Linked DNA regions of Homo sapiens. The gene in region 2 interacts genetically with the main gene of each other region. Each region holds a gene or a part of one and is shown on either strand. Other genes may lie near its edges.

Evidence for each region.
Region 1: of CAP1 (region 2) and ATG10, changing one enhances a phenotype caused by changing the other (phenotypic enhancement), as found in Homo sapiens cells (one large-scale study listed by BioGRID).

What each region holds. Positions count from the first base shown.
Region 1 is NC_000005.10:82,051,826-82,055,647, reverse strand, and holds part of ATG10 (ubiquitin-like-conjugating enzyme ATG10), read right to left. Parts: intron 417-3,822; exon of another isoform or gene 314-416; intron 1-313. UniProt on the Homo sapiens protein: E2-like enzyme involved in autophagy. Acts as an E2-like enzyme that catalyzes the conjugation of ATG12 to ATG5. ATG12 conjugation to ATG5 is required for autophagy. Likely serves as an ATG5-recognition molecule. Not involved in ATG12 conjugation to ATG3.
Region 2 is NC_000001.11:40,068,050-40,071,871, reverse strand, and holds part of CAP1 (adenylyl cyclase-associated protein 1), read right to left. Parts: intron 2,183-3,822; coding exon 1,998-2,182; intron 1,714-1,997; coding exon 1,590-1,713; intron 1,443-1,589; coding exon 1,360-1,442; intron 1,037-1,359; coding exon 893-1,036; intron 423-892; coding exon 339-422; 3' UTR 1-338. UniProt on the Homo sapiens protein: Directly regulates filament dynamics and has been implicated in a number of complex developmental and morphological processes, including mRNA localization and the establishment of cell polarity.

The DNA.
Region 1 (3,822 bases), on a different chromosome or scaffold from region 2:
GGATATTCAGAGAACACGGAGCTGCACTGTGTGTACTAAATATAGCTCATTAAATGAGGGTAACTGCTCTATTTTGTATTTTTCAATACCTGAGCCCTGGTCACATAACCTCCTCTTAAGGGAACATAAAATTTAGTAAAATTCTAATAACAATGCAAAATACATCTCCTTTGACATTAAAAGAGGTGAGTCAAAAATTCGTGTGCACCTATGTTATAAAATCTAAATAAATTATCTGGTCTCTTTCCCAATTAGTTAAGATAAAGAGATATGTCACTTTCAATAATACTTATAATTTGAGGAATTTACTTACATTTTAGGTAATTTCTAATACCATTTTTTTATTATCGATACGGAAGTACGCTGGGTTTTTTGCTCTATATTTGGTAGTGGTGATTTTTTTTCAGTATCAATCTTCTCAGTCAAGATTAGCCTTGAAAAATTAAATATAGAGTTTTTTGGATTTTGATTTCCCTTTAAAGACTTCCACAGAACTAGATGTTTCTTCTACTTTGTTTTAATTTAAGGCAGAAAAATATGTTTTGTGCTTCACTGTTGAAGGATGCTTTTTTAGAGACAAGCAAACTCAAAAGCAGGAGAACCACCACTCTTGTCAGCCCTGCAGTCCACCCAGCCCAGGAAAAAACGATGTCAACTCAAATTCCCCCTTGGCAATGAAGTTTTCCTGACCATTCCAATTAACACTCCTCTCTAGCTTCCCTGCATTCTTTTTGTACTTATCATAGCTTACACTTGAACATTTAACTCTTCTTTAATTTTTTAACATTTGTTAGTTTTATTTCTCCCACTAGATCATAAGCTCAGGGCCTAGGCCTCCATCCTCTAAGGGATGACAAGGTCTTTACAGGATCCAGATTCCATCCCACATAACAACCTGATCCAGAAAGAGTCTGAAAACATCCTGGACAAGCATGAGAGGATTTAAAAACAAAGGGAACCTTCAAGTTTATCCAATTCAAGCCTCTCATTTTAGAGATAAGAGGGTGAAGGACTAAAGCACTTCTAAGAAACTTGTCTTACACTAATTAGTTGGAGGCAGAGCAGGAAGTGGAAAGCGGATCTCTTGACCTGAGTATTCTTTGTAGTACACTAAGCAAATTCTGCAAGAGAGCAGGACCATGGCTTATTGACTCTCGTGGACTGGTGTGGGCCAGTGCTTTGCACTTCAAGTAACAAACTCAAGCCACTCAAGTGTGGTCTGGGGACCAGCCACAGCATAAGCTGCGAGCTCATTAAGACAGACAGGCAGAATCTCAAGCCTCACCCCAGACCTCCTGATTCTGCATTTAAAACATAATCCCCAGGTGATATGTATGCACATTTTGGAAGCACTGAGGCATGTACTGCAATCCCTGACTCAAAGAGACAGCAAACTGACTACATTAACAATGGTTCTCAATCCAAGCTGCACATTAGAACCACCTGTGGAGTTTTCAAACTGTTGCTGGTGTCTCACCTCAGACCAATTAAGTCAGAATCTACCTAGCAGATTCCAGCACAGCAGCCAGAGTTGAGAACCACTGCACTCAATTCCTTGGAGACCCTCTTTTGAACTCAATGAACAGAGTCAATCAGGTAATCTGCAGCTACCTCAGGAGAGAAGTCCACAAACAACTCAAGATCTTCATGAACACCATAGCTCATCTGGAGTTCTCCAAATGCTAAAATCACCTCTGTTAATGCTCTCTTCTTGGAGCTTTGACCATGCTGAGACTGCCTTTGAAGTGGTCTTTACTACTGCCCGAAAAACTAATTTCTGGCAACTTGGCCAGTCTTGACCTGGCCCTCTGAAACTGCCAGTAGTCTTGTAACTTAAAATTGCTCCAAGTCCAACTACACTTCAGCTATTAGGTCTCCTTGCTGTCCATTCACCACAAAGCATGATGCTTCACTCTGTCACTGTAGAAGAATAATTAATAAGAAATGTCCAGCTGTTATAACCCAAACAACTTTCATTATAAAGAGAATACTTCCTCACAGCCAAAACTCTTCCAGTTATCTAAATAGAATGCCCTTCACCTAAGACCAAAATAAGAAATATTTAAATGAGAAAAAAACCCCAAATATGCTAGATGAAAATATAGGAGAACACATATTTTTTAATATGATAAAAACCCAGAAGTCATAAAAGACTGGTAAATTCTACGGCATGCAACGAATTCTTAACACCATAAAGTCAAAAGACATATCAAAATGTGAAAAAGCATTTGTAGCTCATATCATAGAAAAGAACTAATTTTTTCAATATAAAATAGCTTTAATTTCCTCAAAATATAAATAGTTCCACCAAATCAACAGGAAGGGGTCCAATAGCCCAATAAGAAAATGAGCAAAGGATACACAGATAGTTTACTAAAGAGGAAATACATGTAGATAAAAATATGTTCAATGTTAGCCATAAGAAAAATGCAAATTAAAAACTGTGATAACATTTTTTACCTATCAGATTGGCAAAGATCAAAAAGTATGAAAGGGAATGTATAGACAAAGACATGGATAAAACAAGCAGGCACTCTCATACATTGCTGGGGCAGGGGAGTTAAAATTAGCATAAGATCCCTGAAGAGCAGGTTGGCAAAAACTATCAAAATTTAAAATGCACACACCTTGGATCCAGAAATGTTACTTCTAATAATTTACCTTATGGATATAGTCACATATGTAGTAAATAAAATTCATACAAATGATTATTAACATATTATTTTAATAGTATAAGGTTGGAAACAACCTAAATTTCCATCAGTGAAGATTGGCTAAATAAATTATTTTATGTCCAAATAATGGGATAGTATGTAACCACAAAAATAATGAATGAGTTCTGTAAATATTGAGTAATGACCAAGGCTGACCATTAAGTTATTTTTTAAAGCGCAGAACAGTATGAATATATGCATGCTACCATATGTTTAAATGTAACTGTACAGGCTATGTGTACACTGAATATATCCGGAAAGATACCCAAGACCATGGTATCACTGGCAACCTCTAAAGGTTTGAGTAAGGAAAGTAGAAGGGTTAGAAAGGAGACTTAACTTTTTAATGTAAAACCTCTTTTGTGCCTATAAATACATGGCACTTCATTTTAAACAAATAATTAATTGCCCTTTGCACATATGCCTCCAGGCCACCACATTGCCAGAGTAGATTCCAATCTTAAACTTCTAAGGAGAAAATGTCCTATAGGTCTTATAGAATCCAAGAGAGACAAGCAAGTTTTCTAGTGTAGTGCCGATTGCATTTTGGATGGAGATCTAAGGATTTCCTGATAGAACACGTTTGGGTCTGTTTTAGTACAAGCTGTCATAGGGCTATGCCACCCAGCAAGCTATGTTATGCCTGCTGGAATCCAGCTAACAAAATAATTATAGGGCTTTTGTTGCTGAGTTTAACAAGATCTTCTCTAGACACATCTAAAAGAAAATGGGTGGTTATCTAAGGGTCTAAGCTCTACTTCAGAATAAGGCATTTTATATACGACTTCAACTCAAGTTAACTGCCCAGAATGATCAACTGCAGGAAGGGCTTGACAAGTCCATAAAGGAGGAAGACAACTGAAGTTTCTAGGTCAATGCCAGCACTGATCAAACAAGGCCTTCAAGGTCAGTGGAGCCCTGAGGAATAGGTCAAACCTAGGCCACAGATCTCAAGTGACTGTTCTTTGCTGCTGTAGAAGATCAAACCAATACTATCAGTAGCTGTTCAAAACTGATTAACCTTGGGGTAAAAAGAAGAAACTAGAAACTACTGCTAAGTAGAAAAGTTTATACTAGGTAGGTCGGACATTAAACCAATATCCATCCA
Region 2 (3,822 bases):
TTTTCTTTCCAATGGACTGTTTGTTGGTAGAATAACCCCCAAAAGCTCAAAGCTAAAATGCATCATCAGTCCTAGTCGGCAGTTCCTTAAGAATGGACTGGCGGCGTGGTTGAGCTGATATGGAAAAGCTGCACCTTCCTGCAGAAGATCAACTGACCTGCTATCCCACCCCAAATTTCAGCCTGAGGTATATTTCAGTGAAGGCAGGTAGCTGTGCTTCTCAGAGCAGAGAAGCAGTTTTAAGAGCAAAAAGGTAGAGGAAATCTAGAAAAGAACCGTCTTGATACAGATTTATCCCATGGTGTGAAGGGAGGGCAAAGAACCCAGTGGCACTTCGCTTATCCAGCAATTTCTGTCACTGTGGTGACCAACTTCTGCCCGTTCCATAGGGTCTTGAACTGCTCAGGAACTGGGAATTCATTCTGCAAATAAAGAAGAGACAGCAGGTTTAAATCTGAGCTAAAGAACAGCTGGGGCTAAATCTCACACATTTCTCCCAATGCTTGCTTCCACTTAACCCCAGGAGCACGGTACAATGTAGCAAGAGACAAACCCACAGAGCCATGCTATGTTCTAGTGTTCAGCGATCTTGGACAGACTATTAAGTCTATGGGGTGTAAATAACAGTACATATGGCTTTATAGCACCAGCCTGACAAGGTGCCATGGCTCATCCCCATTATTTTTTGCTACCTTGAGCTCCACTTAGGCAGAAAGCACCTACCTTTGGGGCTCCACTACATGGGACTACCTCATTTCTGTGTACTTTTGGTGTGCATTATTGGGTTTTTACCTGCTCAGTGCAGAATGTTCATAAAATAGCTTTCTTCAATGCCAGAAATCTTCAGTCCCTTCTGTTTTTAACATCATACTAAAGAGATCAAGAAACTTACAAAGTCACCGCCTTCTGTAGGAATGAGGACATTCATCTCGGAAGATTTGGCACTGACTATTTCACAATCCAGGGAATTCTTGCTCAGGTAAGCATGGCAGCCATCTGTTTTGTTGATGGATATGGTTGGCACTTTACCCATTACCTGCAGAGTAAACAAAGAGAACTGAGTCCCAGTGGTTGGGAAGGACAACAGTAAGTCGCAGGAAAAGGTTTCCTGTTTCACGTGACTCAGCAACTACATGAAAAGCTCACAGATGCGCAAGACACTGGATACTCGGGTGGGTTGGGATGGGTCCTGAAAAGAACTTGCTTGAAGAGCCAACCCTTCTTCTGCCACGTCCAAAGCAGCTCAGCTTACAGACTTTGTAGAATCAGATTCCCACCAAAGCAACATCTGTGGGTCTACCATGTCTCTTTGAATTAATTCCTCAGGGACAAAAAGAAGGAGCCAAAATATCGAGTTACCTGAACTTTGACATCCTTACTGTTGATTATCTCCACAATGCCCACCACGTCATCGAATACCAGGCCAAGTTTCTTACAGTTATCTAGGAGAAGAAAGGGAGTGTGTCAACGTGTAACTTTAAAGGAAAGTAATATACATTTAGGAATCTTTAAGGATAGGGTAGGTAAAATGGTATTAGCCTTCTCGGGCTCTGGGACGGGGCTTGCGTGGGACAGCGACAAAGACTCACCTACTGTAATGGAGTTAATTTTGCCCTTGATTTGCAATGTCGTGTTGACACACTTGTATATGTAAGCCACCTGTTTCAGCTCTGTGTCCTCAATCACCAGGTTGGAAACATTTTCCTGATTTTCCTGTTAGAGAGAGATCCCAGGATTCTCATCACAAAGCACACACCGAACAAAAAATAACCAGGCTATCCCAAACTTTTTGTTCTTGCAATTGAAGCCAGAACTCTGCCCTCATCTAGCTAAGCTCCATTTAACCTCCTGTTCCTACTCCTTTTCCCCGGGAGGCGGAGGTTGCGGTAAGCCGAAATCGCGCCACTGCACTCCAGCCTGGGCGACAAAGTGAAACTCCATCTCAAAAAAATAAAATAATAAAAATACCTGCCCCTGTCTAGGTATTTTTAACTCACCACTCTCCACTTCTTGCCCTCCAGTTCAAGTACAGCTGGCTCCTTCTTTGTGGCTCGTTTGGGGGATGGGCTGGTTTGGGGTTTAGGTGCAGAGAATGGTTTGGGGCCACTGCGTACTGGACCACTCTGAGCCTTCAGGGCAGGGTTCTTGTGAGTCTTCATGTCATCAGATACATGTTTCAGGGCTGTAAGAACAACAGCTACCTTGTTCCTGTCCTTCATACCAGACCTTTGAGCTGCTATCGTCATGTTAAACATCCTTAACAGAAAATTCAAAGCCAAAACCAGAGCCTTTGAGATGTTCTCTTGCAAGCAGTTTTGGAAAAGTACTTTTATCATTTCTCTTCTCCCCAAGATTAAATTATATGGTTCCATTAACAACAACATGGAATGTGTGTATATTGTGGGTGAGGATAAGGATATGTAAATCCTTATCCTCTATGTCTAGAAAGACATATCAAATGTATGTGCACAAATATATAATTTTTAAAGCAATAAAGAAAAATGAGTGGTAGTAAAGAAAATTTGGTAAAAGGAAAAGAAAAAAATACCCTCACTCCCCACAGCTAACCCTACTTCCCCCACCTCCTCAGTCAGTGTTGGCATTTGCAACTCTACAATATTGTTTTCTACATATATTTGGTTTTGTTGGTTATAATCATACAGATTGTTAACAAATTTAGTTCAACTATTGACACTTAAAAACTTTCTCATGTTAACCTGTAGTTTAATATCTTTCTAGGCCAGGCGCTGTGGCTCATGCCTGTAATCCCACACTCTGGGAGGCCAAGGCAGGCGGATCACCTGAAGTTAGGAGTTCAAAACCAGCCTGGCTACCATGGTGTATTTTTAGTCTCTACTAAAAGTACAAAAAAATTAGCCGGGTGTGGTGGCAGGTGCTGTAGTCCCAGCTATTTAGGAGGCTGAGGCAGGAGAACTGCTTGAACCTGGGAGGCAGAGATTGCAGTGAGCCAAGATCACGCCACTGCACTCCAGCCTGAGCAACAAAGTGAGACTCCCATCTCAAAAAAAATAAAATAAAATAAAAAATAAAAGTAAAAATATATTTCTTTTATGTTTTAAGGGAAAAATAATTCATCATCTCCCACAGCAGGCTGACACACGCCTCGCTTTGAACATGGCCAGATCTATGTTAACTGTATAACAAATACTGAATGGCCTTTTTATCTCCACCATTCCTTGTGGTTGTAATTTACATACTAGATTTTTTTTTTCTTAAACATTACATGGTTCACTGTAGAAAAACATGTAATGGTGGCACAACATTTCATCAAGAGGCCGGGCGTGGTGGCTCACACCTGTAATCCCAGCACTTTGGGAGGCCGAGGTGGGCAGATCACCTGAGGTCAGGAGTTTGAGACCAGGCTGACCAACATGGAGAAACCCCATCTCTACTAAAAATACAAAAAAAAAAAATTAGCCAGGCATGGTGACGCATGGCTGTAATCCCAGGTACTCGGGAGGCTGAGGCAGGAGAATTGCTTGAACCTGGGAGGTGGAGGTTGCGGTGAGCCGAGATCGCGCCATTGCACTCCAGGCTGGGAAACGAGCAAAACTCCGTCTCAAAAAAAATAAAAAAATAAAAAACATTTCATCAAGAGGACATGTGGTAGTTAGCCATTTCTCTTACAGTTGGATTTAGGTTGTTACACCATTTTTAGCTACTATGATCATAGATTCCTAGAAGTGGCTGGACAACTCAGACTTCCACCAGCTGTGTTAAGGGTATCTACTTTATACCAACATTAGGTCACTCTCATGCAAATTTTCCATGTAACCAGTATGCATCTTCTGAGGAAGTTAA